Linked DNA regions of Homo sapiens: regions 1, 2, 3, 5 and 6 are each reported to be linked to region 4. The links are microRNA targets in miRTarBase. Many come from high-throughput screens and were not tested one by one. Region 4 holds a microRNA gene; each other region holds the end of a gene's coding sequence. Distances are between the middles of the regions.
Evidence for each region. The annotated mature microRNA hsa-miR-6734-3p reads CCCUUCCCUCACUCUUCUCUCAG and lies in region 4 at 2,578-2,600, opposite strand. An mRNA with a match to its seed (bases 2 to 7 or 8) in the 3' UTR can be bound and repressed. Matches are read on the target gene's strand: a 7mer-m8 pairs with bases 2 to 8, a 7mer-A1 pairs with bases 2 to 7 and ends in A, and an 8mer does both.

Region 1: the mRNA of EPX is a reported target of hsa-miR-6734-3p. Seed matches in the 3' UTR shown: 7mer-m8 at 1,016-1,022.
Region 2: the mRNA of CCDC174 is a reported target of hsa-miR-6734-3p. Seed matches in the 3' UTR shown: 8mer at 2,650-2,657.
Region 3: the mRNA of VASH2 is a reported target of hsa-miR-6734-3p. Seed matches in the 3' UTR shown: 7mer-A1 at 2,251-2,257.
Region 5: the mRNA of BAHD1 is a reported target of hsa-miR-6734-3p. Seed matches in the 3' UTR shown: 8mer at 3,429-3,436, 7mer-m8 at 2,154-2,160 and 7mer-A1 at 1,744-1,750.
Region 6: the mRNA of TMCC2 is a reported target of hsa-miR-6734-3p. The part of its 3' UTR that is shown has no 7-base or 8-base seed match.

Annotation. Positions count from the first base shown.
Region 1 is chr17:58,203,756-58,207,920 of GRCh38, forward strand. EPX (eosinophil peroxidase) reads left to right here. Exons shown (of 13, transcript NM_000502.6): 12 at 467-679; 13 at 981-1,419. The coding sequence ends at 668. MKS1 (MKS transition zone complex subunit 1) reads right to left here. Exons shown (of 18, transcript NM_017777.4): 14 at 4,139-4,165; 15 at 3,330-3,463; 16 at 2,710-2,792; 17 at 2,528-2,625; 18 at 1,686-2,415. The coding sequence ends at 2,324. Among named protein-coding and RNA genes, the nearest start is that of EPX, 13 kb to the left of the region's middle.
Region 2 is chr3:14,669,884-14,674,903 of GRCh38, reverse strand. CCDC174 (coiled-coil domain containing 174) reads right to left here. Exons shown (of 11, transcript NM_016474.5): 10 at 4,818-4,970; 11 at 2,249-4,008. The coding sequence ends at 3,710. Among named protein-coding and RNA genes, the nearest start is that of C3orf20, 2.7 kb to the left of the region's middle. RefSeq lists enhancers at 1,202-1,251, 2,577-2,786, 2,721-3,920.
Region 3 is chr1:212,987,169-212,992,308 of GRCh38, reverse strand. It overlaps VASH2 (vasohibin 2), which reads right to left. Exons shown (of 8, transcript NM_001301056.2): 8 at 724-3,797. The coding sequence ends at 3,725. ANGEL2 (angel homolog 2) reads left to right here. Exons shown (of 9, transcript NM_144567.5): 9 at 1-127. Among named protein-coding and RNA genes, the nearest start is that of ANGEL2, 26 kb to the left of the region's middle.
Region 4 is chr1:43,362,071-43,366,408 of GRCh38, forward strand. It overlaps MIR6734 (microRNA 6734), which reads right to left and starts at 2,645; the gene lies at 2,578-2,645. CDC20 (cell division cycle 20) reads left to right here. Exons shown (of 11, transcript NM_001255.3): 10 at 125-242; 11 at 881-1,133. The coding sequence ends at 1,059. ELOVL1 (ELOVL fatty acid elongase 1) reads right to left here. Exons shown (of 8, transcript NM_022821.4): 2 at 3,494-3,553; 3 at 3,116-3,306; 4 at 2,858-2,938; 5 at 2,668-2,724; 6 at 2,472-2,577; 7 at 2,254-2,390; 8 at 1,331-2,067. The coding sequence starts at 3,539. The coding sequence ends at 1,846. RefSeq lists a silencer at 4,241-4,330.
Region 5 is chr15:40,464,675-40,469,891 of GRCh38, reverse strand. It overlaps BAHD1 (bromo adjacent homology domain containing 1), which reads right to left. Exons shown (of 7, transcript NM_014952.5): 6 at 4,457-4,557; 7 at 1,656-3,951. The coding sequence ends at 3,762. Among named protein-coding and RNA genes, the nearest start is that of CHST14, 3.7 kb to the left of the region's middle. RefSeq lists an enhancer at 5,181-5,217.
Region 6 is chr1:205,270,776-205,275,992 of GRCh38, forward strand. TMCC2 (transmembrane and coiled-coil domain family 2) reads left to right here. Exons shown (of 5, transcript NM_014858.4): 4 at 345-480; 5 at 1,038-2,568. The coding sequence ends at 1,349. Among named protein-coding and RNA genes, the nearest start is that of TMCC2-AS1, 36 kb to the left of the region's middle. RefSeq lists enhancers at 938-1,082, 3,285-3,866, 3,867-4,449, 5,058-5,217, a cis regulatory region at 1,010 and a silencer at 2,746-3,040.

The sequences.
Region 1 (4,165 bases), not on the chromosome of region 4:
CCCCGTCTCTACTAAAAATACAAAAAATTAGCCGGGCGTAGTGGCGGGCGCCTGTAGTCCCGGCTACTTGGGAGGCTGAGGCAGGAGAATGGCGTGAACCCGGGAGGCGGAGCTTGCAGTGAGCCGAGATCCTGCCACTGCACTCCAGCCTGGGCGACAGAGCGAGACTCCGTCTCAAAAAAAAAAAAAAAAAAAAAAAAAAAAAAAAAAAAAAAGACCTGTCTCCTTATTTGGAGTTGGTATTGCCCGAGTTCAAATCCAGCCCTGGCCACTTAAATTACTGTGCACTTAATACTGGGCAATTTATTTGGCCACTGAATTTGTTTCATTTCTGAGATTCCAATCTTGCAGGAATTTTGTGAGAATTGAATGGAATAATATATGTAAAGTACCTGGCACACAACAGGTGCTCATTATAAGGTAATTCCTCCCCAGCCTTCACCCACATCTCTCGACTGCCTGGTAGGTTCTGGTGGCAGAAACGAGGTGTTTTCACCAAAAGACAGCGCAAGGCCCTGAGCAGAATTTCCTTGTCTCGAATTATATGTGACAATACCGGTATCACCACGGTTTCAAGGGACATCTTCAGAGCCAACATCTACCCTCGGGGCTTTGTGAACTGCAGCCGTATCCCCAGGTTGAACCTATCAGCCTGGCGAGGGACATGAGGCTTCTGCAGGTAAGGGGAGGCCACCTCCAGCACCCTGGGCTGGGTTAAGCCCTCACATCCTTCCCTGGATGGATGGCTGAGTCCTCTTAGGTCTCTAAGCAGAGAAAACAGAACTTGTCACTAGGTACTCTTTCCAAGTGGCTTCCCAATGTGCTAGTTTCTGGGCTGACAGTCAATTCCAGGCCCTAGGACTTTGGGGGGAAATTAGGAGCATCCAACTATCCTCAGCTTGGTCACTAATACCTGAAAACAGCTCCATTTCTAAACATCCAGTAAATTCCTGACTTATCCAGTTCTGTTACTTCCACAGGAGTCTATCCCAAGTCTCCAACTTTTGGAGACAAGGGGAAGGGGAGGACCATGAGGCTGCCTTGTCTCCCTGGAGCAAGTGCAGGCTGCTGACGCTTCTGCTGGCTACAGCTCAGAGCTGGGTTCCCCAGCCAGGAGTGAAGGCTGGGGGCTCCTATCAGCAATGGACCTTCCCGCCTTGGGAGCCTCTTAGGTATTAGGCTATGAATCAGCGCCACGTGCAAAGGCTTGGGAGCCAAGCCATGTGGTCTTGCACCCCAGGCAAGAAAAGTCAGCTGGAGGGTTTACAGCACTTTCTACTGTTTCCCAGCCCTCCCTCCCCTCCCTCACCATGACTAAGAGACCACTCGGTCCTAGCCTCCAGACACCCCACAATACTCCTCTGAGCCTGAGGCCAGGCAGCATGCTCTGCTTCTACCAATAAAGCACTGCTAAGGGCAGGGGCTGCTGTTTCTGTGTTGGGCTAGGGAAGACGTGGCCTCAGTTCCATGCTTTGCTCCAGATGTTTAAGAGAAGTGCTGTTAACACGCAAGCTGGCACAACCATCTAAGCCTCTCCTGGGGGCTGAATTAGGAGAGCCCAAAGAAACACTGTGGAGTAGGGAAAGGCAGAAAAGGGGAAGGGCAGACATGGTAGGGGCCCCGACATTAAGAACACCCTAGCCATACCAGCAACCTGAGCAGACAAACAGCCAACAGAACATCAGTCAAAATAAAAGGGGTTTATGTAACAAAAAACAAAAAAACAAACAAACAAAAAAACACAGTAAAAGATACCACCCAGCTAGCAGAAAGGACTCAGCACTGCCTTCAGCCTTCACTTACTCAGAAATAACTCATATCTCAACCTCAGCAAGCCCCAAGCAGTAGAATGAGGCTTCCCTGGAAAGAGGCTGAGACTCACAGGCTGGGGATTTAAGACCCTCTCACCGTCCACCTTCCTTCCTTCTTTGGTCTTGGAAGATGAAAGGCTCCATTTTTAAAGGGTGGAGAACAGCAGATCCCCTGCTACTGTGAGACAAGCCAGAAAAGTGAGTCAAGGCCAGACTCACTATGGGGTCACCCCAAACAGCTTCAGATCAAAAAGCCTGCCTTGCTGTGATGCCCATTGACAGTGGCTGCAAATATAAAGGGGGGGCCACAGGGTCTCTGGCTTTATTTCCACAGGGTAGGGAGAAGACCCTGCAGAAGGCTAGGCAGAGGGGCCAGCCGGGAATTTCCCAGCTTTTCTGGTTCTCAGCAGACCAACGTGGTCTCTAATCAGAAAGACGAAGAGGCAGGAGAGCACTGGCCTCAGATATCCCCCATCTTGTCCTCTTGCACTGTGGGCCAGGGCTGCTGTGAGCTAGGAGACCAGGGTTCCAGAGGGGCTCACTAGGTCCTGCGGGAGGCTTTCCCGGGCCTCCTGCATGCGGCGCCGGGCTCGACGGAAGGCCTCTGTAAGGAAAGGAGATATGCTATTTGGCTGCCATATGGTATTTCTCTCTGCACTGCAGAGAGAAACAGGCCCATGCTGACCTGGGGTGGCCAGCTGGGGGAGGGGACATACCTAGCACATTGTGAATGGAACTCTGCTGGCTGAACCCTTCCAGACGGTCCAACACACTCCGCATCCTTTTCTGAAGGGAGCTCGATTCCATGAAGGCCCTGCAGGGAGGCCAGCCACATGGTTACGGCTGTCTCCACCCCTCAGGGCTAAGGTGCCCTGAGGCAGAGGGCCAAGTCACTCACCTGGACTGCTGCAGACAGTGCAAGCGGAAGGTGACAGTGCCTGTGGTCTCTGTGCGGAGTCCAAAGCGGCTCAGGCGTTCCCCCTGTGGCATGCCATTGGGACAGCCTCAGGTTTCTGCTCTCTCTAGACACCCCCGCACCATGCTGGCCTCACCCCCATTCTTATTCCCATTCTTGGGAAGCGCAGTTCTGTTGGGGAAACCTTATTCCATCACCCAGACTCTATTACCTCAAGGCTAATACTGGGCTATTGGGCTCCCCCAACTAAACCAGGGAACATTCCAACCTCATTTGAGAAGCGGCGGTCTTATATGCTTACTGTGAATCCTCCCCACATCTGATTACTGAGGCCTTCAGTGATGGGGGAAAGAGCCAGTTATTCTGATGGGAACCAGGGGAAATCTCTAATTATACTATTTTCCAGAGACCTCCTACGATAGCAGTGTAGATATTGGAACCTGATTCAAAATGTGGTCATGACTTCCAGCTTAAGCCACAGGAAGGAAGGGGTTAATACTGAAGCAATGCACAACTAAGGGGTCTTGACCCAGATCCCACCTCCTACAGAAGGACAGGACCATAAGTTCTCAGCGTGAAGTCACTCCAAAGACAAAAGTCACCTTGAAGGATCCTGGTATCCGTACATAGGAGAGGTCCTCCAGTTCCAGAGAACCGCCAATGAAAAACCTCCTCAGCTCAGCCACCGTGCCAAGCTCCACAGGTCTCCACGTGGAGACTGTCAGGGTGTGTGAGCCTGCGCAAGGGAAGAGAAGACTGGGGCCAGGTCCAGAAAGGGCATGTGGCCCCTCACTGACTCCCCAGCAATGACACAGGCCTAGACTCAGCTAAAACACCTGGTCTGGTGATGACCTGGCCTCTGGTGCAGGTTATCATGGTTACCCATAGCACCTGTATGGAAATCAATCAGGGAGAAATTCAAATTTCCGCTCTGCCAGTTATTACCTGCATACCCAGGACAGGTTTCTTAACCTCTCTGAAGCTCATTCTCCTCATCTAGTAAAATGGAAATAATACCACCTGCACCTCACAGAGTGACTGGGAGAATTAAGTGAGAAGTATGGCACAATGCCTGGCACACAGTAAAAGACAGATGCTTTTATTCCAAACTGAATGCTGATTCATTCAATACACATATGCTATGAGCCAATTTTGCCATACAGCTTCTCACCCTGAGTCCAATCAGAGGAGCATGAAGCACATGGAGAGACTGTCAGGAAGTCAGTGCCAAGGCCACGTCATTGTCGCTAATGGAGGGGGGCAGAAAGTCCTCAGAGGAACAGGAACTCTTTCAAGCCAAACATTTCCAATTCCCAATTATCTCCACCCCTCACCAGAAGCATTCGAGTGTTAGTCTTGTTCTTAGGGCCTAGGGCATGTGGGCCACAGAAGGGCAGAGACGAGCGGTTACCTGGAGTGGCAGGCAGCACCACAGCCC
Region 2 (5,020 bases), not on the chromosome of region 4:
AACTCTATCAAAACACACAAAGGCCTAGAGGAGAGATTACAATGAACGTAAATAATTCAAGGCAATTTTTGATCTAAAGCATTTTGCTTAGCTCTACAAAGGCATGAATGAGGTGTGGTCACGTTTTTGTATAGGAGGTTTTGCCACTACTTGCTCCCAAGTTAAACATGGCCACAGAGTATTGTGAATGTTTAATGTATGCCTGGGAAAAATTTATTGGCCAATACTTTAGTTACTAATGGGAGGATTATGTATAGTCGGACCATAAAGCGTGTAAAAGCAGATCACTTAGAGCCGCTCTGTCCAGGACAGCAGCACTAGATGCATGGGCCCTTTGAGCACCTGAAATAAGGTTAGCATGACTAAGGAACTGGGTTTTATTTTTTCAAACTTGATGTTCAATTCAGTTACTGAAAAACTTTACTATGTTTAACTATCTTTGGAACAACTTGGATATGAATTTGTGTTTTTCAACTGCATATTTTACAAAATCTAAATACAGATCAAGTATTCCTGATGAAACGTTAGCATCCAAATTATGCTATAACCAGATACACAGTGAGTTTTGAATTCTTAGTGTGAAGAATAATTTTAGATCTCACTAATAATTTGCATATATTGAGTACATATTGAAATATTTTGGATATGCTGAGTTAAATAAAATATGTTATAATTTCACTTTTTAAATATGGTTGCTAGAAAATTGAAAATGACACTCTGGGCTTATTTTTTTTTTTTTAATTTTGAGACGGAGTTTCACTCGTTGCCCAGGCTGAAGTGCAATGGCGCAATCTCAGCTCACGGCAACCTCCACCTCCCAGGCTCCAGCGATTCTCCTGCCTCAGCCTCCCAAGTAGCTGGGATTACAGGCATGCGCCACAGATTTATTTTTTATTTCTGTTGGAGTGTGCTGTTTTAAGAGTATGGAGCTGACATTTAAGAATTCTAATGCCATCTGCTGGATACACTGGTACAAGACAGGCCCGTGTCACAGTAAGACTGTGATGGTGTGTCAATACTCAAAGAACTGGATCTGAAACAGAAAAGGGCTCACAAAACACTGAACTAAATTATACTGTTAAGAGGGGATTATAAATAGGTTTATTTAGTTTTTGAAATCCCAGAGAAAATGTGACTCACAGTTATCTTCAGATAACAGTGACCATGAGCCAACGAGCATAACTGCTTCGCCGTCCACCCGGGTGCTGCAGGCATGGATGTGGTCACCTGGGATGGACCCTTTGTGATGCTGGCTCCCACACCTACAGCTCTTCCTGCTGCCTGCCTTGTCTCTGTCTCCCTTCTCCTTTCTACTCCACAGTCAGCCTCAAGTCCTTCTGCTCTGGGTTACACACACATCCTCTTTCCATCTTTCTTTGTCTATTCATTGTTTTTTTTTTTTTTTTTGAGACACAGCCTTGCTCTTGTTGCCCAGGCTAGAGTGCAGTGGCGCGATCTTGGCTTACTGCAAGCTCCGCCTCCTGGGTTCATGCCATTCTCCTGCCTCAGCCTCCTGAGTAGCTGGGACCACAGGCACCTGCCACCACGCCTGGCTAATTTTTTGTATTTTTAGTAGAGACAGGGTTTCACCGTGTTAGCCAGGATGGTCTCGATCTCCTGACCTCGTGATCCGCCCGCCTTGGCCTCCCAAAGTGCTGGGATTACAGGCGTGAGCCACCGTGCCCAGCTGTTTTCTTTCTACCCTTTCTTTTTTCTATTTTTCCTATGATTCTAGCATGTCTAATAATTCTATTTTTCTTTTTAGTATTCCAATTTTTCTTTTTGTCTCCTCCCTCTTTATCCTACAAGCTGTTTCAGTAGGTTTTGTAGTTTTAGCTCTTACATTTAGGTCTTTGATTCATCGTGAGTTGATTTTTTGTATGTGGTGTGAGGCAGAAGTCCAAACCCATTCTTTTGCATGGAATATTCACTTGTCCCAGAACCATTTGTTGAAAAGACTGCTCTTTCCCCACTGGATGGTCCTGGCACCACTGTCAAAAATCAATTGACCACGGATATATGTTTTATTTCTGGACTCTCGCCTCTATTCCACTGATCTATGTGTCTATTCTTATGCCACTACCACACTGTGTAGATTATCGTAGCTTTGTGGTCAATCTTGAAATCAGGAAGTGTGAGTCCTCTTTGTTTTTTCTCTAGATTGTTTTGACTATTCTGGGTTCCTTGCATTTCCATGTGAATTTTAAGATTAGCTTGTCAATTTCTGCAAAAAAGGCAGCTGGGTTAGTTGGTTTTTATGTGTATTTATTAAAAAAAGCAATTACCCGATTAGGCTGACAGAATGATTAGGCTGACCATTAAAAGGACTGGCAACTTTATCCTCAGAGTTTAGAGGTAAGTTTGTAAGAATTCAGGATGTTTGTCTAAGATTGCTTGATACTAGGGCAACAAGACTGAGAGCAGAGGGCACTAAAAAGACTGTCTAGGGGTTAGACATCAATTGTGTTTAAGTCTGAGATCTGCCCCTTAGGTACCATATGACCCTGCACAAGTCATCGACCCCTCCACACTCCAGTGTGTCATCTGTAATGAGGATGGGGCACTCCCTTCCACACTGCAGCACTGCGGGAACCGAGACAATGCCATCGCAGAGGACCTGCAGGGGACAGGCTACTTCACTCACTCCTCTCCTTCCCACTCTTCAGAGAACAAGGACTTGTGCTACTGTATTCTCACAGCACTCACTGGCCTGGGAACCAGCTGTGGGAGCCCTATGGGCCTGGTCATCAACTCTCAACTGCTTGTGTGCAGCTGTAGGAACCCTCTGAGGTGTGGCAGGTAGAGGATGGGGTGGGTGCCCAGGCACACTGCTGACTTTCTGGAGCCCTGCCCACCCCCAACCCTCTCCTTATTACTAATGACACGGGAACCCACCTGCTCCACTGTGCAGCCCCAAGTCTGATCCAAGTCAGGCTCCTGAATGTGAGGAAGCCGAGCATGGGGGCGACAGGGAGGTGGGATGCACTGAAAAGCTCTAACCATTGCCGCTAAGGCACATCAGTCTCTGACCAGGTCCAGCAGCCTCCACGTACGTCCCAGTCCTTCAACACACATTTACTGAATGCCCACTGCACACAGGAGTGTAGGTAATAGCATGGTATGACAGTAAAATTAAGTAAACAACTCCCACTTCTACCTTTCTGGACTACGAAGAGCTCCTCCTGGTCTTCCTTATCATTTCCTATGTGATTACTTCCGGGTCCTCTTGGAGAACAGAGCATTTTGCCTCCCATGCAGTTTTCCACTGCTTGACAGGGAGAAATTCCTCGTGACCTATGGTCCATCGGCTGATCTGGAAGCTGAACCCTTGGAATAAAGACACCTGCATGCTCGGATTTGCAAAAGGAATGGAAAAGAACCCTTAAATATGAGTAAGTCGTGGGAGTAGATATGAAACAGGGTTATAAGCACATCTCAGTGTCTAATTTTACAGAATAAATACTTCTATTCTATCGCAGCTCACATGTAAATCCAGGTAGGTATGTCCCTATCCCACTTAGAATAAAATGAACAGCCAAGTGGCCAAAGTTTCCATAACTTTCCTCCTTGCTGACAAATCCAACCCGAAGTCTGTGCCTCCTAGGGAAAGGACAGGACAAAGGTACAATTCAGTTCCTAAAGTTATTTCTCCCTCTGGGAGAGAAAGGCACTGTCAAAGTACAAACCCAAGTCAGCGTGCTTTGAAAGATCATGTCACTTGTTTGTAATAGGAAATCATGTCATCCAGAGTTTTGAAAGTAACTGTGGGGGCTTGTGGTGGGTTGTCGGGGGCAGGAGTGGGTGACGTATGTTCAGGGCTAGGTCCGTGGCTCTGGTCAGGGCACTGCCCTGGGTCACTCTGTGCTGGCCCAGGTCTGCTCCATGCCTGGCTGCTGGAAAAACCAGTTCTCTTCTGACCCACAAAGTAATCTGACGGCGGGGCAAACTCAGGATCTCTCTCAGCCCGGAGATCTGACTGCCTCTTCGACCAGTATCCAAAGGAAAATTCTGGTAAAAATAAGAAAGAAAGTTATTAGAACTGATTAACGAATCAGTTGAATTTATTGTTACTATTATCTAATTGTATCATATATTTCTTAAAAGCCACCACAAATTATCCAAAGAATAAGAATGGCAACAGCAAAACTATATTACAAGGTATAAGTAATACCTACAACGAGTATAAAAGACCAGGCTAAGAAAAGGGAGTGACTATCTCTAGATGGGGAAATACAGAAAAAGAGAAATACAGACAAATTATCTGCTTGACATGACATTGTAGGTATTTCATACCAAAATACAAATTTTGTCCGTTATTGAGTTTTGGAAGACACAAAAGGGAACTGTCCAACCTTGTCTGGTATTTCATCTCTATTTCTAACAGTGGCTCTTGCATTTCTCTTACTTTAGCTTTGGATCTTATCAGCTCAGACAGCATGGGCTAATGTTCTACTGAAATGATCTTTTTCAAAGAGGCATAAACCATAGTCTTCCAGAGAGGCTGCTGTGGACACTCTGGAGAATTTACAGAAAAAATGTCCAGGGAAATTCCCCAATGGAACCATGTGTGAATCCAGGTTAGTACACTGGCATGTAGACCATTTTCAACTGAACATAAAAGAGGCTGCTAAAAACAGAGCATATGAGAACACCAAACTTTCATAATACTTTAAAGGCAGGTCCTGAGAAATGGCATTCCAAAGCTGTAAAACCACACAAGGCAGCACGAAGTTAAAACTTACCCCAAGTGCTTCTAGAAAAAAAACCATTTTCCATTCACTGGAGAGTTCTTACACCTCAGAGCCCACCTCCCTTACCTTTTCCGCGGTCCCACTCCCGGATGTGTGGCACTCCAGGCTTGGTGTCCTTCCTCTCCTGGACAATGACTTCTACTTTGCTACTCTGGGCAGCAGGACGTGGGGTTGGCACAGCCTCTGGCTCCGGTGGCAAAGGCCCAATAACATCTCCATCTATTTTTTGTAAAAGAATAAGACACTGTTATAAAAAAGCCTAAAGCTAT
Region 3 (5,140 bases), 170 Mb from region 4:
TGCTTTTAACCTTTGCTTTCCTAAAGAAAGTTTGAGATCCAGAGAGTTCAAGGGATTGGGGAAAGAGAGGCGTCAAGTCATTTGCACTTTGTACCTGTAAGTTAGGTAATAAACTATTATACTCGTACTTCTGTGCCTGAAGGTTTTGTGGTAGGTATACTGAGATGTATAAGCTGTACTGTTGCCTTTACTAAACTATTTCATTGCCCTTTGCAGCCATTTTTACTTAGGGGTGATGCTAAAAGATGAGTGAATTGAGATATGTCAAAATAGAGTGATAGAGTGTTTTTAATATAGAGTCTGCAGATTGTGAAAGAAGGGTGAAAGAACGATAAATAGGTTCAGTAGAATAAATATATAATAAGAGGACCAAAAAAAAAAATCACACCATCTTACTTTTTTTTTTTTTGAGACTGAGTCTTGCACTGTTGCCCAGGCTGGAGTACATTGGCGGGATCTCAGCTCACTGCAACCTCCGCCTCCCAAGTTCAAGCGATTCTTCTGCTTCAGCCTCCCAAATACCTGGGATTACAGGCGCCCGCCACCATGCCCGGCTAATTTTTTGTATTTTTAGTAGAGACAGGGTTTCACCATGTTGGTCAGGCTGGTCTCGAACTCCTGACCTCAGGTGATCCACCCGCCTTGGCCTCCCATAGTGCCGGGATTACAGGCTTGAGCCACTGAGCCCGGCCACATCTTACATATTTAGAAGAAAAACAATCCTTAAGTTTCCAGGATGGTTTTATTAAAGTCCCATGCTGTGTTAGAAACATACAAGTGATGAGAAAAACATTAACTTGAAACATGCACTTACTGGCATTCTCTAAAATACCATTATACAAGTTTTCATTTAATTAGAAAAATACCCACTAAAACAATCACAGTTCTTCTTAAAGATTTAAAAAAAATGTATTGGCCAGAACAAAGTCCAAGAGAATAAACAAAGTTCTGAATTGTATGTCAAAAAAACTGTACAAGGTTGTACATAAAACTATAGCTTACAAAAGACTCAGGTATAGTAAGAATTCTGAATTAAGATTTCCAAAGTTCTATTTACCAATATCTATTAATAAAATCCTTATGAAATAATTGACTTAGAAAAAGTGAAATGCTCATGATTTCAGAGTGTATAGAAAATACTAAATATCTCCGAAATAAAGTGTACTCAAAACAGCACAACATACAGTCTAAAATCAAGATTTCTGTCATTCATTTAAACTTTGCATATATTGCCATGATGGCTTAAACATAAAATTTCTCTTGCACTAACAACTTTTTAAAACCGATTTCAAATCACTTCATAGTTTTATTTTTTATATTTTGAATTCTAGCCAGTCTTAAAATCAGCTTTGGGAGGGGGGTGCATATAACATGTTTTTTGTTTTGTTTTGTTTTTTGTTTTTTAAATTATTGCACTAGAATTTAGGGGTTTGGTGCCTCTCCCGTATTTTTTTTAGAAATTAGCATATTCCATAGGCAATAAAAGTAGGATGACAACTAAGAACATTTTAAATGTACTTTCAAGTTTGTGTGACTAAACCTTGCTTTGGGAAAATTAGTCTAAAAATCAAGGAGCGGGTGTGGGAGAAATTAGCTTACTAATTGAACCATCAAGCCAGTTGGCAGTTCTAAGGCTTCTTTATCAGCATATTACAGAGTTTGTATTCCTGTTCTTTTCCTCCTTGTTGTGGGAAACAAGCTATGCAACCATTTGACATTCTGTATTTTAGATGTAACAGTACTTAATACTTGGCAAAAATAAATTCCAACTCTTAGAATGGTTGCAGTGTTATAAGAGGTCTACTTATTAGATGTAAGCAAGTTTCAGATTGACAAACAGAAGGTATATGGCTAAGTCAGTATTGTTTTAGAATGAAAATGAAATGATTCACTATTTCAAACATCTGAATACATGTGGCCAAGAGGCTGCGAATGGGTTTGCTGTGTGTAGATAAACAGAGCTAACTCATTTTAAACTCTGATAATACTGTTCTTAAAGAGATTAAACTGATAATTTTTAACCCTGTGCTACATTTTAATCTAATGGAGATGTATACTTGGTCTTGTTCATCTAAAGGACATTCGACTTCTTTAAGAAAACAGTACTTTTCATTAATAATACTGATTTTCAGGGTGAAGTAAGCTCTTGTGCACCCTTTTGCTTTGAAGTCCTTTTGCTTTCCCTGTCACCCCCAGAAATCTTGTAAAGAATTGGTAAAGAATCTCAATGAGCTTTTTTTTTTTTTAACTTCCTTCCTATAAACACCTTCAGTCAAAGAAAGCCAGAGGAGATGCACTGAGACTGAAATAACATCTGTTGACTACCAGACTTCACTGAAATCGGCCGTCTGCTCTCCTGAGTTGGCATTGTTGCTAAGATAAAGCAAATGAAATTGAAGCTGTACTCTTGATATTTACACCATACAAGACTAGGCTGTTAGGGTTGTCCTGTGTGGTCTGCAGCCAGAGGTTACACTGTAACTACCATATGCAGGCCAGACATTCATTCTGTGCTTAGGGACTGAATTACACTATAAGGTGTAACACTGGACCGAAGACTTTTCCATTAAAAAAAAAGTGCTGCTTTTCTAATTCTTTATATTTTCCAATACTCATTCCTAAAATGTCATGAAATGGTACCTAAAAGCAAAGTACTGGAAGATAATCACATCATGTCACATTTGGTCTTAATATAAGACATCAGAACACATCTTTAACAGTGAGTCCTCCCTTAGTTTGATTCTTGGCATCCTTCAGAAGAATCAAAGCCTGCCTCAGTTTAAAAATCAGATGAAATGTGAACAGAAAGGTTTTTTGGTTCTGAAGACCTGCTGATCACTCCTGGTCTCTGCCTGAGTGTGTTAATGTCAGAGGTAAATCCAGTACCGCTAAATTTGTATAATAGTACGTGACCTCTTGTGCTTTTTGTTAGAGTCTGCAAAGTTTAAATGTTAGTGACAGAACATAGACTAGCTTCTCAATGTGATATTTTTGTTTCATTTTGAAAAAACAAAAACATCAGTGAATGCTTTAAGAAAGATTAAGAAGGAAGTAACTCCAAGATCCTGAAAATGGTTCTTGTATTGCCAGAAGAATTTCAGTGCTTTTTAGTAAAACACTTGCATATAGTACCTTAAATCTCCTCACGTGTGTGCACCAGGAAAAAACTCCAAACTTGTGGAGATCCCCATGGGAAATACTGGGGAAAGAATACAAATAGAATATAAAAAAACAAAACGCCATTAAGTTTGCATATCTGATGTCAAAATGCTGAGGTAATAACTGCTTAAAAAAAACCCACCCATTTTTGCTTTCTGTTATTGCTGAAAAAGACAGTAATACTGTTAGAGTTACCTTACTATACCAAAAGTTCAAGAGATTATTTCATGAACATTTACTATTGGTGAGGCATAATGTTCAAAGCAAGTAAAAGAAAGTAGGTAAATGGAAAAATATAAAACTTCAGTTACGGTTATCCTTAAGATCTTGAGTGAGGGACATAGTCCAACCCCAGTGGGGCTTATTACTTCAGCCTTTTCATGGTGCCTTTTAGTGAATTTTTTAAAGCTAATGGTTACCACCCACTCAGATTCTATTTCCAGGTGAATCCTTAAAAATAAAATTCACAAGTTCTTAATAAATAGTTGCAGTTCCTCCTGAAGATGCTGGGTAAAGTGCAGAGAGAAGCACCACAGAAACCCTCTTGCTGGCCGGTATGGCTTGGCTAAATTCGGATTTGATAGCCCACTTCATTCAGAGTGCTCAGATCAGCCACCTTCTTTTCAGGCAGTGCAGGCCTAAGGGTAAAAGACAGAAATATGGTGGAGGAGAGGGGATGGGGCAAAGAAAGACAACAGCATTTTCAAGGTCCTCTACTCGGTTTTCCTAATCCTTCTGATATTTGTCTCATCCTCCCATTCCCCCACCCTGCCAGCCTTAGCTCACAACTCTACTTCTTGTTCTTAAGTCCACCTTTAAAGGTTTTAAGGAACATTTTAACAGACTTTCAATGTAGAGTTCAGAAAAGTTTTCAGGGTGTGGAATGAGCTTCTGCAGCTTTAAGCCTGACTTTGGTCACATTATAGCTTTTGAAACCCAGTACTCTTGAACCTTGCAAGGGTCTAAAAGTCACATACACTACAGTAGAGCCAAGAATCTGAGTCAAATTCTCCTTGAAACATTGGCTTCCTAGTGTTCGTGTCCTGGAGGAAGCCCAGGAATCAAAGGTGACTCACGTTCCCAGGGAGCGGTTAATGTTCAGGCTTGAATGTATAAAATCAAGGTGAATCTTAGGATTCATCTGAAAAAGCATGTCAGTGTGGAAAATCACTCAGTGGCAAAACATCTCTTCCCTAGAAACGTGCTAAAGTCACTTCCAACATAAAACTACAACTAAGCAATTATGCAAAGTCATGTGAGAAAGTACTTCAAGCTGGGAAATACAACATTCACATCAATAGCACATCATCTGTCTTCATTAAAGATGCGTCCTAAATGACTTCCAATATACGATTATGCCTAAACAATCTCACAATGTATCTTACAACTTTTCCATTTCTTAATGAGCCTCTTCTCACCTTGGATAAGAGAGAACTGAGATCATGAATCAAGTTTAGGATATTCAGTATGGCTAGTGAGTTCTAATTCAAAAGTTTCACATCCATTTTTGCAAGAAAAAGACATGTTTAGGTTACACATAAACCTTGTTTTTGTTTTGTTTTTGTTTTTGTTTTTGAGACGGAGTTTCGCCCTTGTTGCCCAGGCTAGAGTGCCGTGGCACAATCTTGGCTCACTGCAACCTCTGCCTCCCCAGTTCAAGTGATTCTCCTGCCTCACCCTCCTGAGTAGCTGGGATTACAGGCATGTGCCACCACACCTGGCCAATTTTGTATTTTTGTAGACATGGGGTTTCACCATGTTGGTCAGGCTGGTCTCGAACTCCTGACCTCAGGTGATCTGCCTGCCTCGGTCTCCCAAAGTGCTGGGATTACAGGTGTGAGCCACCGCACCCAGCCGAACCTTGTTCTTAAGTATTAAAAAAAAAAAAAAAGACCAAAAAGAAAATATAATTGTTAGAAGGTTTCTTATTTTATGCCCTTGAAAGATTTCCTAACAGCTAATGGTTTTTCCCTGGCATAAA
Region 4 (4,338 bases):
TGGACTATGATCATTCAACTCTGAGTCTGGAGCATGTGGCAGGGTGCCTAACACTAGAATGGGCTCAGTTCTGATTTAAGTAGCCTTGGCTATATGTCATGCCCACACCAGCTCCTCTCCACAGGTGTGCTCCATCCTCTGGTCTCCCCATTACAAGGAGCTCATCTCAGGCCATGGCTTTGCACAGAACCAGCTAGTTATTTGGAAGTACCCAACCATGGCCAAGGTGGCTGAACTCAAAGGTAAGTGGCTAGGTGAAAAGCCGGACATAAAAGGCCACATAATGTATGACTGAAATGTCCAGAATAAGCAAATCCAGAGAAAAAACACATTAATGGTTGCCAGGGGCTGAGAGAGGGTAATGGGAAATGTTGAAAATGTCTTAGAATTAGTTTTAACAGTTGTACAATTTTGTGAATATACTAAAAATCACTAAACTGTACACTTTAAAAGGATGCATTTTATGGTGTGTGAATTATATCTCAGTAACACCATTGAAAAAAAAGGGAGGAGGCCAGGCACGGTGGCTCACGCCTGTAATCCCAGCACTTTGGGAGGCTGAGGCGGGCAGATCATGAGGTCAGGAGATAGAGACAATCCTGGCTAACATGGTGAAGCCCTGTCTCTACTAAAAAACACAAAAAATTAGCCAGGCGTGGTGGCAAGCACCTGTAGTCCCAGCTACTCGGGAGGCTGAGGCAGGAAAATGGCATGAACCCAGGAGGCGGAGCTTGCAGTGAGCCAAGATTGCGCCACTGCACTCCAGCCTGGGTGACAGAGCAAGTCTCAAAAAAAACAAAAAGGTAGGTGGGTGGCCCAGTGCCTCCTTTATGGCTATGGCTGCATCAGCATTCGTATGTACTGTTCTCATTTGCTCCAGGTCACACATCCCGGGTCCTGAGTCTGACCATGAGCCCAGATGGGGCCACAGTGGCATCCGCAGCAGCAGATGAGACCCTGAGGCTATGGCGCTGTTTTGAGTTGGACCCTGCGCGGCGGCGGGAGCGGGAGAAGGCCAGTGCAGCCAAAAGCAGCCTCATCCACCAAGGCATCCGCTGAAGACCAACCCATCACCTCAGTTGTTTTTTATTTTTCTAATAAAGTCATGTCTCCCTTCATGTTTTTTTTTTAAATCTGTTTCAGCTAATGCCTTTCTTCTTTCATGACCTATGTCCCAGCAGCCTTCCTAGGGGCTCTACTCTACTGGGATCAGAGAGCTAGATATGTCCTGTGGGAGCCTGGACCATCCATCCCTCTTGTTTGTGGACAGGGCTAAGCGTGTTGTGTTCCCCCACCTCCTCTGTTCACATACGTATACACACAGCCTCCGTGGTTTCCTCTGTCACTTTTAATTAAGACACAAGTTGAGTAAGCAGCCTCCACAGGCTGTATTCCCAGGCCCCCGCCCACCCTGACCTTTGGCCCAGAAGCTACTGCTTCAGTGTGTGGGGTGGAGGAGTGAGACTGGGTCCACAGTGACATTATTGCTGACCTCTTCTGTGTGAGGAAAAAGGCCACGAGACCCTTTGTGGGGCCAGCCCTGAGTGCTCCTCTCCCAAGTTTTAAGGCAGGGAGGGGGAAATAACTGTACAGCCCTTTTAGCCCCCAGCTCTGGAGTGGCAGACAGCAATGAGGCCACATCCCTGGAGCTGCCCGGGGGAAGTGGGTGAGGAACCAAAGCCGTGGTCCCTGTAGAGCAGCTGTGGGGAGGGGAGGGCCAGTCCCCTGCTCAGTCCTGACCACATAAGCCTTGGTCACAGGTGTAGGTGGAGAGGGCACTGACGGACACTGCCCTAAGGTGCAGTCCTGAGGCACTTAGGTGGGCGCCTATCTAGGCCATGCTTCTCAGTTGGCCTTGACCTTGGCAATACCTGGAGCTCCATTTTGCTGAAGTGCACGGGGCAGCCGCTTGCCCTTGGTATAAGAGTGATACCAGAAGTTGGAGAACAGCATGAAGAAGATGGTGCCATACATCCAGATGAGGTGAATAATGACTGGGTACTGGTAGTTACAGCTGGACATAAAGTAGTACTGGGAGATGTGCAGTGAGACCAGGACAAACTGGATCTAGGATAGAGAAAGACCAGGGTCAGAGGGAATAGTGAGAGGACTAGAGGGGAAGAGGGGGTAGAGAAAGAGACAAACGTTGAGTAGGGAGAGATGGGGTCAAAGGTGAGACAGACTGGATAAAGGCAGGATCCAGGCTAGGAATGTGGGGGGATGGTTATAGGTAAGTCAGGCCAAGCCCCTCACCAGCTGAATGGCTGTCATGTGCTTTTTCCACCAAAGGTAGGGTTGTGCCACAGGGCCAAAGGCAGATAATCCGTAGTACAGGTACATTATGACATGCACGGAAGAGTTTATCATGGCATGGAAAGAGCCCATTCCTCCTGTGAGTGGACAATAAGACAGGGTCAGCAGAGTCCAGCCTCTGGTGCCCACCCTTTCCCATAGTGGCCTTCACCACTCACCCGGGGCAATCTTTACCCCCCACCACCAGCTCCAGGGAAGCACAGAGTGATGGAAGACATGTAGGAAGGTCACCTGCCCGTCTTTCTTTCGGAGAATAAAGATCACCTGAGAGAAGAGTGAGGGAAGGGGATTCAGAACCTGGGCTTCTCCACCTCATTCTCCCCTCAAGTTCTCACATCTCATATAACTACTCACTGTGTCCATCAGCTCAATGAACTTGGAGAAGAGGAAGAGCCAGGCCACCCGAACCATCTGCAAGAAGTTGGGATAGCCTTAGGACCTCATACACTATTCTAAGAGCCTCCCTAAACTGGGCCTTGAGCACAGGCCCCAAACTGGTCATATCTACCAGGTTGCTTATGACCTAGCCCCAGCCCCTACTTACCCTAAGTGCCTCAGGGCTGTTGGAATAGTCCACAGGGTCACAGCGCCAGGTATAGGTGCTCAGCCAGCCCGACATCAGGAACTGGGAAGGGATGTGGATTAGACCACCAGAGTTCTCCCTTCCCAGCCATCCCTCCCCTTCGCTAGCTGAGGACATGGATCTGAACCTCTCTGGAAAGGAGAAATGCCATGCTCTGGCTCTATGGCCTGCTCCTTATCCTGCTGACAGAAATTAAAGCCCGGCATCCCAGGGGCCCACCTCATAGACAATGTAGAGGGAGAGTGCCACCAGTGAGAAGTTGTAGACAATCATGAAGCCACGGAGCTGGAAGGGCTTCCGATTAGCCATGATGCGAGGCCCAAGTGAGAGAACGAAGTACACGTAGGTCAGGAGAATGGAGGTCATTAGCAAGGGGGACCCCATCAGAGGGTAGCCCTGGATCCGGGGATCTATGAATAAGGGTCAAAGGAATCAGGAAGAGTCACAGGGTTCGAAGGGTCTTCATTTGAAGGGTCTACAGACATGAGGTCAGGTCACAGGATCAAGGGTTTCATAGGAACTCTCCATTAGAAGACAGCCGTAGATCCAGGGATCCCGGGAAAGAAGGAAGGAAAGGGCTGGTGGATAGCGTCTTACCTGCGTGCTTCATCACCTCTTGGTACAAGTTCACAACAGCCTCCATCCTGGCTAAGGACTCTGGGGAGGTACAGAGGGCGGATGTCAGACAGATCCCACTGCACACCCCCATCCCACAGAGATAAGACACAGAACCAGACAAGACACCTGCAATGCCTCATTGCAGAAAGGACAGAACAGTGAAAGGAAGGAATTACTGGGAACTAGGGGGAGGAGGCAGTTTGGTTGAGGCATCTGCTCCCCACACATCCTGCTTGCCTGGGAAGAGCTGTTCCACCCTTCCTCTCCACACCTTACTCTCCTCTCCTCTCCACAGTTTTACTTCCTGGCCTCCCTTCCCCTCTTCCTCCACAAGATAACTCTCAATTCCAGGTCTCTTACTGGAGAATCTTACCTTCTCACCAACAGGGAGCTCTTGAACTCCGTCTCCCTTCCTCACCCGAGTCCCTCACCTCCCCAGCTCTGGGTCTTTCTTCTCTCCAGGGATTCTCCCCTTCAATCTCTCCTCTCCTGCCCTCTCCTCTTCCCATCCCTCTGGACCCTTCCTGAACTCTCTTCTCCCCAGGGTCCCTCCTGTCCCTGCCAGGACTCTCACCTCTCTGGGCCCTTCTGTCCCTCCAGAACCTTATCCTCGGATTCCTCCTTGCCTGTGCTGGGACACTTATGTCCCTACGATTCTCCTCTGCCTTTCCTGGGACTCTCACCTCCAGCCTCTCCTCTCCAGCGCTCTCCTCTCTCCTCTCGCAGAGCCCTTCCTCTCCTGGAGCCTGGCTCTTTGAGACTCCTGCCCCGGCGGCTCCACCTGTCTGACTAGATCTGGCAGCAGCCCCGCCCTCTGCCCGCCC
Region 5 (5,217 bases), not on the chromosome of region 4:
AAATTTCTAATCACGGCCCTTCAGAGATTAAAGGAGCATATCATGGAATGGCTAGAAGGGAGGAAGCAGCTGACTCGAGGGCGGACTGTACAGAGCAGGTGATGGAAAATAGAAGATACCAGTGGGAGAATGGAGCTACCAGTGATCAGATGAATTCAGAAGGGTGAGGGGACTTGAGGGATGAGGTGATACTAGAGGGCTCACTGATGACCCCACAATCCCAGCAACAGGAAAAGCACACAGATGAGCCAGGGGAAGGAACGGTAAAGCCTTGCAGCCTTCCAGCTCTCCAGGGCAGGCTCTCCACATCTGATTGCCCCAGTGCATCTGCAGGCTACCACCTGTCCATTTGCTGCACCAGAAGTTTGCGTGAAGGTTCTGCCTTGTCTACACTGCTCCTTGCTTCCAATAATCCTAAAGGTATACATTTCTGGTGATAGGATTTTCTATTAAAATCATATTTTCCAGTAAGTATGTCCTTTAAACCAGGAGAGGAAAAAAAGGCCTTAGACCTTTAAAAATCTTTTGATAATGTGGCCACATGTGCTCCCTTCTGTGTTACAGGGTAGTTTTCTGTGTTAGCAGTCAGGGTGAGGCAGGGGGAGTCCTTGGGCCTGGTACTTATCTCCATACCAATTTCTTGTCTGTAAGATAAGGACAAGCTACCACTCGCCTCAAGGGAGTCTTGTGGACACCACACTGAAGGCAGAGCTAGAAAAATCCATGGTGGTGTCTGTGCCACCAATAAATTCTGAAAAAATGTTCCTGCCCACATGCACCATGCCTTAGCAAAATGCAGAAGTGGAGGCGGGGCGGGGGGGTGCTGTGGCTCCCAGGAACCTCTATGGCCTTAGAGCTGCCCCACCTGGAACATGGTCAACACTGAGGCTTCCAGGCTGGGACCAGGGCTGGGCTGAAGCAGGGGTCAGCTGGCCGCAGACCCTTGGCCCCATGATGTGGCCTTCCTCAGCAAGCAAGAAGCACCAGCTGCAAGACACTGAGGCCCTAGGACAGTGCTGGCCAGTTACCCAAGGTGATGAGGAGGGATGCTTTTTTTTTCTTTTCTGAGACAGGATCTCACTCTGTCACCCAGGCTGCAGTGGTATGATCACGGCTCACTGCAGCCTCGTGCTCTTGGGATCAAGCAATCCTCCTACCTTAGCCTCCTGACTGAGACTATAGGCATGCACTGACATGCCGGGCTAATTTTTAAATTTTTCGAGAGACATGGTCTATGTTGCCTAGGCTGGTCTTAAACTCCTAGGCTCAAGTAACCCTCCTGCCTCTGCCTCCCAAAGCACTGGGATTACAGGCAGGAGCCACTGCATGAGGCCAGTGATAAGAAGGTATCTTTGCCATGTACCTACTTGGGGACCAATTTCCAGGTCACTGGTCAGGTGAGGGCTGGCAACTGAAGTATTTCACACAGACCTAAGCAGGCAGCTGTGGCCACCATGAAATCAAGAAGTCAACTCCAAGTTCCCAGTCCCTCTGTCTCCTTCCCTCACTCTCTTTTCCCTCTGCTTCCCTGCCCTCTTTGCTCATTGGCCTTGGTGAGCATCCATGCCACAGGGGTTAAGAGGGACCTCTGAAATAAGAATAGTGGGTCTCTCCACACCCACACACCAAAAGATGACAGGACACACAGGAAACGATCCTTTTCTAAATCAATACAATTTCTCAAATTTATTTTTTTCTTAAAGAAGTACTTCTAATCTCTGTCAAAAGGGAGGTGAGGAAAGGTCCTTCCTCCCTTGTAAACACTGAAATACAGATCTGGGAAACCAGGATCAACACACACAAAAAGTGCATTTTACAAAATATCAACTAAAATATATTTTACATGGATTATGCTTCCATTGAAATTCTACCAGCTGCATTTTCAGGTTCGAAAAAATATTTCCACATCTAAGAGATTTCAAAAGCATTTAAGTTCGGGGCAGCCAAGACCCTACCTCCTGGGAGGAGGGCCTTCATCTCCTTTCCTGCTAGGTGAGGCTGGGCTCCTTGGCAGCAAGGGCCCAGAATGAGCAGGCTCCAAGGCTGGCTCTGCAGAGCCCCCACTGCCACTCTGCCAACCTCATTTACTGCCCCATCCTCCCAGACAGACACCTTCCTCCAAACAGCTTATTCAATATAAGGAGATCCAAGTCCCTTCCCTTCAGGTTTGGGATCAGGCTTCCCAAGCATAAATTCACCTCTGAAGCCTCCAGGCCTCACCCAAACCCAATGACCAATCAGGAGCAACTCATCTACTAAGGGACAGGGCATGGCAAGTTGGGGGAGCCCTCAGGGTTCATTTCCACCTCCCTCTGCAGCCCCTGCCCAGCTGTCCTCACCCAGTGCCACCTCCTAAGCCTGCTGGGTTCATCTGCCCTTCCTCCCTAAGGGAAGACCCAGGGCTGCAGTTCTCAGCCCCAGCCCCTGCCCCCAGGGGTATGCCCTTGTGGAAGTGCTCAGCTAGCAGGTTCCCAGCACCAGGCCCAAGCCACACTGCACTCCACTCCCTCTCCCACCATACTCCTCTTTGGTACAGATAGGAAATAACCAGGCTGCTCCAGCCCCCTCACAGAGTCTCAGGGCCAGGGCCAAGGCCTAGTCTCCACAAGGACAACAGGGGACTGAGCCTGTTAGTCTACTCTGGGGAGCAGCATGAGGTGAGAACAGGGCCTCTGGGCAACAGGAACAAACTGAAAATGCAAGTCCTTAGCTCCTAGAGCAAGTGGCTGCAGCTCAGCAGGTCCGTGGACTGATACAGTGTTGATTCTTGCTAGGATGTAAATTAGTGCAATCTACAAAAGACTAGGGAAAGGGTGGCAGGGCAAGGGGAGCCACAGCACTCCTTTGGTTTGATTTCAGGTGGGTGTGGCTTGAAGAATCACGTGTGAAGTTCTGCAAGAGGTTTCCTGGAACCTCCATGTGTAAGGCAAGAGGAAAAATCTTCAACAAATCAGGTAGCAATTTTCCTTGCCCCCTGCCCCCAACCCTCTCCCAGCACCCATCTTCCCTCCCAGATATGACAAACCCCACAATCATCAGTTAACTTTCTGGGAAGCCAGACCCGCTGGGTGGCCGTCTCTGGGAGGTGGACAGGAGACTCCCACAAGTGGGCCACACCCATGACTGTGAGAGGTGGGTCAACTTGTCCCAGCACCAGTTGCTACTGCAGGGCAAAGGAGGAAAGCCAGAGAAAAGGCCTCAAGTCTAGGAAGAGGAAGTCAATGCTCTGGAAGCCAGACTCTGGCTCTCTATGCCTCAAAGGAACAAGCTCAGAGCTGTGCTGGGATCTAGGAAAGCCTGGTCCCAGGCTGAAGGGGAAGCGGCGGGTCACAGTGGGTGAGGTAAAGCTGGCCCCCACTCCCCCTTTGAGGGCAAGGGGGAGGCTACAGAAGGGCCTGTTGGGTCTGGTTCCTGAAAGACCTTGCCCCTCCTTCCCGCCCCCACCCTCCTAGGGCCCCATTTCCCTCAGGCTTGGCCCAGCCTCAGAGAAGACTACTTTTCGGAAATCTCCACCCAGGGGAACCACAGAAGGTACCTTGGGCCAAGCTGAGAGTTCTGATGCTTTTCTTATACCCTGGCCTCCCCAGCTCCCTCCCCTGGAGCCCAGAACCCACAGGGGCCCCTGCCCTCCCCCCCAAGAAAACCACAGGCCAGCAAACTTAGGCCTCTGTGGCCCCCTAACCAAGTGCTGTGCTTCAAGCAGTGCCCCCTACCCCGAGCCCCACTTGCCCATGGGTAGCCCCAGCATGGGCATGAGGAGGCTACTGGGGGTTCTTAAGGATGCGCCCGTGGCGGAAGTCATAGACATGGCGGCAAAGGAACACCAGCTCAGGGTCCGTGTCCTCTGGCACTGTGCGGTGGGGTGGGGTGGAATAGTCTGCAGAGGGGGGAACCAGTGCTGTCTTTCGGCTGGGGAGGCCTTCACCTCGGCGCTTGGCCATGGCACAGAACCTGTAGAGAGATACCATTCACTGTCTTTACTCCAGCCACTTTTGCAGGAAGACCAATTCCTTCCCTACCCTACCCTACCCGACCCAGAGAGCTAGGCTATCCTAGCTCCCCAAGGGGTGGTACTGTCTCCACCCATCCCAGGGATGATGTCTGCTCTGCCAACCACCAGGCTATCTTCTCTGTCACTGGAGAACCACACTTGCCAGGGCCTCTCTCCATTTGCCTGCCAATTCGCCTAAATTTTTTCCAAGAGCAGTAATGTTACCCCCCAACTCTGCTCCAACCATTCTACCTCAGTGTGGCAACACAATTTTTCTTCTTTCTTCCAAAAAATATCAGATGGTAGAGGCAAGCAATAGGGAAGTAAGTTCTGGGAGATTAGGCTCAGTGAGTAAGATCAGGTAGAGAGCAGAATGAGATCCTCTCGGGGAATTCCAAGCAGCCCCAAATATGCCTGGGGAGCCTGAGGGAAGAGGCCAGCCAGAGGGTGCAGGGAACCACCTACCTGCAGTACTCGGCAAAAGTCAGCACATAGCACTTCTCCTCAATGCAGGCCACACTGTTCTGGTCCTGATGTCGCGATGCAAACACTTCATTCTGCAAGGGCTCAAAGGGAGACAGGTGGAGGTTGTTACCAGGGCTGGAAAGCACCTCATTCCCAGAGCAAGGCAGACATTAACCCCTCTGCTGGGCCTGCTGACCTGAGATGACTCCAGCAAGCTTCCCTGGAAATTCAGCCTAAGTATGCCTCACCTACTGCCTCCAGGCATTCCTCCTGAGTCCCTTCTAGGTCCCCCCCTTCTCCAGAATAGCCAGGTATCTGCTCTAGCCCCTGATTGTCACTGACCTCCCAAACCCCAGCCCTGCCTAGCGTAGGAGAGGGGAAATGTTCTTCATCTTTCCAGTTAGATGGAAAGTCCCTGCAAGGGAAAGTGAAATAAAAGGTGAGCCCAGGGCACACACAGATGGCAGTCACCTCTTTTAGCACACAGCTTGGTGGAGAGCCTATGGGGTGTTAGGAGGAGTCTTTCCTCCCCTCCCCTCCCCTACTACAGAAAATACCAAAAGTGACCAGGTATGCAGCTCCACCTCACCTTTCCTGTTTCCAGGGGAACACATCCACTTGCTCCCATTGGCACCTGCTACCTCAAGGGTTCCCTTTCTGTTCCTCTTTTTAAGACAAAGGTTATTATTCCCTTTGAAACATGAATTGGGGCAGTGTTGGGAAAAGAGAATAAATCCTGGGCCCTTTCCCAGGTTCTCTGG
Region 6 (5,217 bases), 160 Mb from region 4:
ACTCCTCCATTCATGAGCTGCGTGATCCTAGGCAGGCTCCTCAGCCTCCACGCCTCAGTCTTCTCCTCTGTAAAATGGAGATGACACTGGCACCTATCTCATGGGATTGTGGGGAGGATCCTATGAGGTCATGTAGGTAAAATGCTTAGCACAGTGCCTACACCTAAGAAGTGCTGTGTAAATAGTAGCTTCTATTGTTGTTGCTGTTAAAATTAGAACAGAGCAGAGCTGGACACGGGGGATGGGCTGAGTCATTGTTTATTGAGAGAATGAATGAATCAACTGTGGGAGAGAGTGGAAGCTCGGGGAGCCAGGACTGGTGTCACTCTCTCTCCCTCCGCCAGGTACGAGCGGCTGGAGGAGCAGCTCAACGACCTGACTGAGCTTCATCAGAACGAGATGACGAACCTGAAGCAGGAGCTGGCCAGCATGGAGGAGAAGGTGGCCTACCAGTCCTATGAGAGGGCACGGGACATCCAGGTATGGCCAGGGCAACCTTGGGAGGCCCCAGATGTGCTGGTAGAGCTGGCAGCAGCCAGAGGGTTAGGGTTCTTGTCACGTGGGGCATGATAGACACAGGCTGGCCTGTTGGCCGGGGCCGATAGGCACATGGATGAAGAGGGCAGCGTAGCGGGAGCGGAGTGGAGTGAGCAAGACAGGCCTGAGGCTGACAGCGTGCACTGTGCAGAGGCAAGCCCACAGGGCAGAGGCCACCATGCCCCCCACCTCTTTGATGGCAGCTTCGCAAATGAGTATTTGGAGTTTCCAGGCTCCAGCCTGCCTCAAGAGGGAGCCAGCTGGGATTGGGCCAGCTCTTTTCCTTCCCTAGTAATCAAGACTCTCATTTCCTAGCATCCTCCCCAAAGAGTCATCCTTAAAGGTCTCTGACCCCAGTTGCAGCTGGTCAACCTCCACTCCTCCTGGCCTTTGGAGAGGAGACTTCGTTATAGGCACCTTCTCAGTGGGGTAGGTAGGTTTTCAGCCTAGGGGTCCTGCCCATCCTGAGCGCACACATGCCAGCCCCTCTGCCCCTGCAGGAGGCCGTGGAGTCCTGCCTGACCCGGGTCACCAAGCTGGAGCTGCAGCAGCAACAGCAGCAGGTGGTACAGCTGGAGGGCGTGGAGAATGCCAACGCGCGGGCGCTGCTGGGCAAGTTCATCAACGTGATCCTGGCGCTCATGGCCGTGCTGCTGGTGTTCGTGTCCACCATCGCCAACTTCATCACGCCCCTCATGAAGACACGCCTGCGCATCACCAGCACCACCCTCCTGGTCCTCGTCCTGTTCCTCCTCTGGAAGCACTGGGACTCCCTCACCTACCTCCTGGAGCACGTGTTGCTGCCCAGCTGAGTGGCCAGCCACACCAACCCTGTGCTCTCTGGCCCCCAGCTGGCCACACTTCTCCAGGAGGGACCCTTGGACTTCTTTGTGTGTCCAGTTTGGCCTCCTGCCCAAACTGTCCATTCCAGCAGCTCCTGCCCCCTTCTCTGTACTTGCTTCTGTCTGACACCTTCTCCCTGTTGGCCTGAAGGGAGCTTAGAATGCAGCCCTACCTGGAGATAGTGCGGGCACCTGTGGCCAAGTGGAGCAGAGGTGGACATGGGGTTGGATTGTTTTGATTATTTATAGTTACACAAGGACTTCTCCCAGCTGACCCTCAGGATGCCCCAAGTCAGGAAGACCATTAAGAATAGGAGGAGAGGGCTCTGCCTCAACTTTCCTAGGAAAGAGCCCACCTCGGAGATAGCTACGGTTTTCTCTGGTGGAGATGGTGAGGATGAAGGCTGGAGAGTGAGGGAGGAGGCTCTGCTGGCCGCAGAGAACACAGGGATGGGAGGGTCCCTAGCCTTCGGGCACCTCCAGGGCCAGAGAGCAGGCTCAGAGCAGCTAGTGTGGAGCTCAGCATCCCCACCCCACCCCTCCTCCCTGTAGAGCTGATTTGAGGCCTCCTTCTGGGGCTGGGCTCTGCAGGCCAGGTGGGTGTGGCCTGTGTTTTCCCTTCTGTTCTTTCTGCCTGTACTGGATCTGTTATTTTCAGGGAAACAGGCCCCAGGGCCCCCCTGAGCCTCACCCTAAGCCCTTAGGCCTCTGAGAGTGCTGTTGGGTTCTATTTATTTATTTATTTGTTCCTTTGTTCCCTACCCGTGCCCCCAGTGTCTTCCCTGCTGAGTACCAGGAGAGGTCCTGCCCCATCCTCTCTCTGAAGCCAGGGCCCTTCCATTCCATTTAGCCTTTGGATCATCCTGGCTGGGAGAAGTGGGACCGAGCCACCCAGCCCCACTATCCCCAAGCAGCCCTACAGCCGGGATGGGAGGCACGTGGCCTCTCTTTTATCCGTCTATTTATTTTGTAAGTGTATTCGTGTGGAGGAGGTTGTTGCTTTATTTTTTTAAGGCTCTGGAGTGTTGTGTATGGTTTCTTTTCACATCCCAGCCTCCCATGGGCACTTCTAAGAAGAGAGGGGATTTCTTGGAAAAGGAGAGAGGAATCCCCTAGAGCAGGGAAAGCAGTGCCTGCCAGCTGTTGTGCACCTTCCTGAGAAATAAATATCCTCTAAATTTTCAAACCATCCTGTCTGGTGTTGGTTGATTAGGTTGTGTCTGTGGGAACCACCACGTCTCTCCCCACACCCAAGCATTCTGGGTAACACAGGCTAGGCCTCTCCTGTTGACCTGAGGCCCTCTTCCTCCAGAATCCGACAAGGAACAAGGCATGGCCTAAGCGGTATGATAGAAGGGATGATATCCACCCCATCCAGGCCTCTTAGAGTCCAGGCAAAGGCAATTAGGAGAGAGATTTCCATAGCTCGGAGCAGGTGAGCCACCAGCGGCCTGAATGGCAGCAGCCATACCCAAGTGAGGCCACGAGAGGGCAGCAGAGTCCTTACGCTAACACTTTCTCCCGGTGCAGCCCCAAAGAAGGCAGCTGCTGGAGTTAGCTTGGTTTTCTCAGAGCCGTCAGCCAGAGCACAGAGCACCTGCTCTCCAGGTGCTGGAGCATGGGCTTGAGTGTAGTGACCAGGCCCTCTGTGGCTGCAGCACCCACTCCCGGCAGTTCACACAGATGGGCACCCTAGATGGCACTGCACTCCCAGCAGTAACCCTGTGGGGGTTTAGGAGAGGCCACCTGAATCTCCCTGCTGGGATGAAAAGATGCTGACTTCCAGCATCTGGAACAGGAGGGATGGTGGGAAATGCACCCACCCCAGAGACCTGGGTCCTGGCCCATAGTGAGTAGATGGCAGCCAACTCACATCTCTCTGCACCTCAGTCTCCACATCAGCGGTAGAGGATGTGCAGCAGCTCACTTCGAAGGGCTTGGACATTCTGCAGTTCTGTGGGTCTGACAAATCAGAAGTTGCCGCTGTACTTGTGGCCTCAGGCTTGAGGAGACAACAAGAGTCAGAGACAGTGCTGTCACCAGATTGGAGAGAAGGCTGTGCTGGTGCCACGGGGGGTGGCATTGGTGGCTCATCCTCACCCTCTGCACAATGTAAGAGTTTCACTAGGTGACCTTGCCGGGGCCTTCCAACAGTGTCATTCCTGGACCCTACACTCACCTCCCTTGGGGGCCACAGGTGTCCTAGAGCCCACATTCCTGGGCCCCAGGTGGGGGGTGGCTGCCCCAGGCTGCAGACATTTCCCACATTCCTCCCCAAGGTCAGGTGCCTTCCCTGAATTAAATGTCACTGCCAACAACAGCCCACACTGAAAGGGAGGAGGAAAAAGGGAGGGAGGGTGGCGGCCATGCTCAGCTGATCCTGAGACTGACAGCGAACAGAGGAGGTGGGGGAAGACCAGCCCCAGCTACACAGGGTCATCTGCAAAAAGGACAGAACACCAGCCTGTGTTTGCCTTATCATGACAACGTGTCTAATAAAGCCCTGCCTGTCTGGGACTCTGATGGTCACTGATGCTTCCTTGTTTGTGTTTGAGCCTTCTCGCCCTTTAGAAAAAAGGGGGTGCGGCCCGGCATGATGGCTTACGCCTGTAATCCCAACACTTTGGGAGGCCAAGGTGGGTGGATCACCGGAGGTCAGAAGTTCGAGACCAGCCTGACCAACATGGTGAAACCCCATCTCTACTTAAAATACAAAATTAGCCGGGCGTGGTGGCACATGCCTATAATCCCAGCTACTTGGGATGCTGAGGCAGGAGAATCACTTGAACCTGGGAGGCGGAGGTTGCAGTGAGCCAAGAGTGTGCCATTGCACTCCAGCCTGGGCGACAAGAGTGAAACTCTGTCTCAAATAAAAAAACAAAAAAAAAGAAGGAAAAAAGGGAGTGCATTGCCCCCACTTCAACCTGGCCTCCTTTGCTGGGGACCGTTCTTCAGAATGCAGGGCCAACAGGCAGGTCCTTCCCAGAGCATCTGTCATGCAGGTCCCAGCCCCTCACCTGAGGGTCCGGAGGTCTCAGCCAGGCTGGTATGCTCCCCTCAGCCTGGGTCCACTACAGAGGGAGTAGCTAAGAATTCATGTTGAAGTTGGCACGTTACTGCTCCAGCAGCACTGAGCAGGCAGGTGGCATGTTTACCATGCCCGTGCAGAGCTGGCACTCCCTGCCAACCTCATCAAAACTGTAGGGCTACAACAGGTGCAGCCCTGGCAAACAGCAAAGCAGGCAGACAGCACAGGCCAGCAGGAGGTGACTTAACCCCTGCCAGCACAGGTTACTCTGGAGTGGTTCTGAGCTATGGAGGGAGGGAAGGGAGGAGGAAAGACTTGGGGCCACAGGGTGGGAGAGGAGGGGAGCTGCAGCCTGGGCACCTGGAGGGATCTTCATGGCAGGTTCAATTTCCCTTTCAAAGCCAGGGCCCTTAAGTCAAGTCTGGATCCCAATATTAAGGAGCCAGCAGACCTAGGCTCAAACCCCAGTGCTGCCACTCACCTTGGACAGGGTTCCAGCTGCTCTCAGCCCAATCTCCTCATCTTCCAGGAGGAATGGAGATGACATGGCACTGGCTCACAGGCTTGGGTGCAGGAGACTTGACATTCTGCAGGTCAAGACTTAAGCACAAGGCCTAGAATATGATGGATTAACCCGAGACTGGACTTATTACTGCTCCTCTTTCCTGAGCCTGTAAGATATTAAGATGCAGAAGAACTCTTCAGGGAAGTCTAAGGCCGACCCCACAGGAACATACAAGGCCAAGGGTGGCTAAGTGAGCCTCAGCCTCTGATTCTGGAAAACCTAATAGAGGTCCTTAGGGTTCCTCT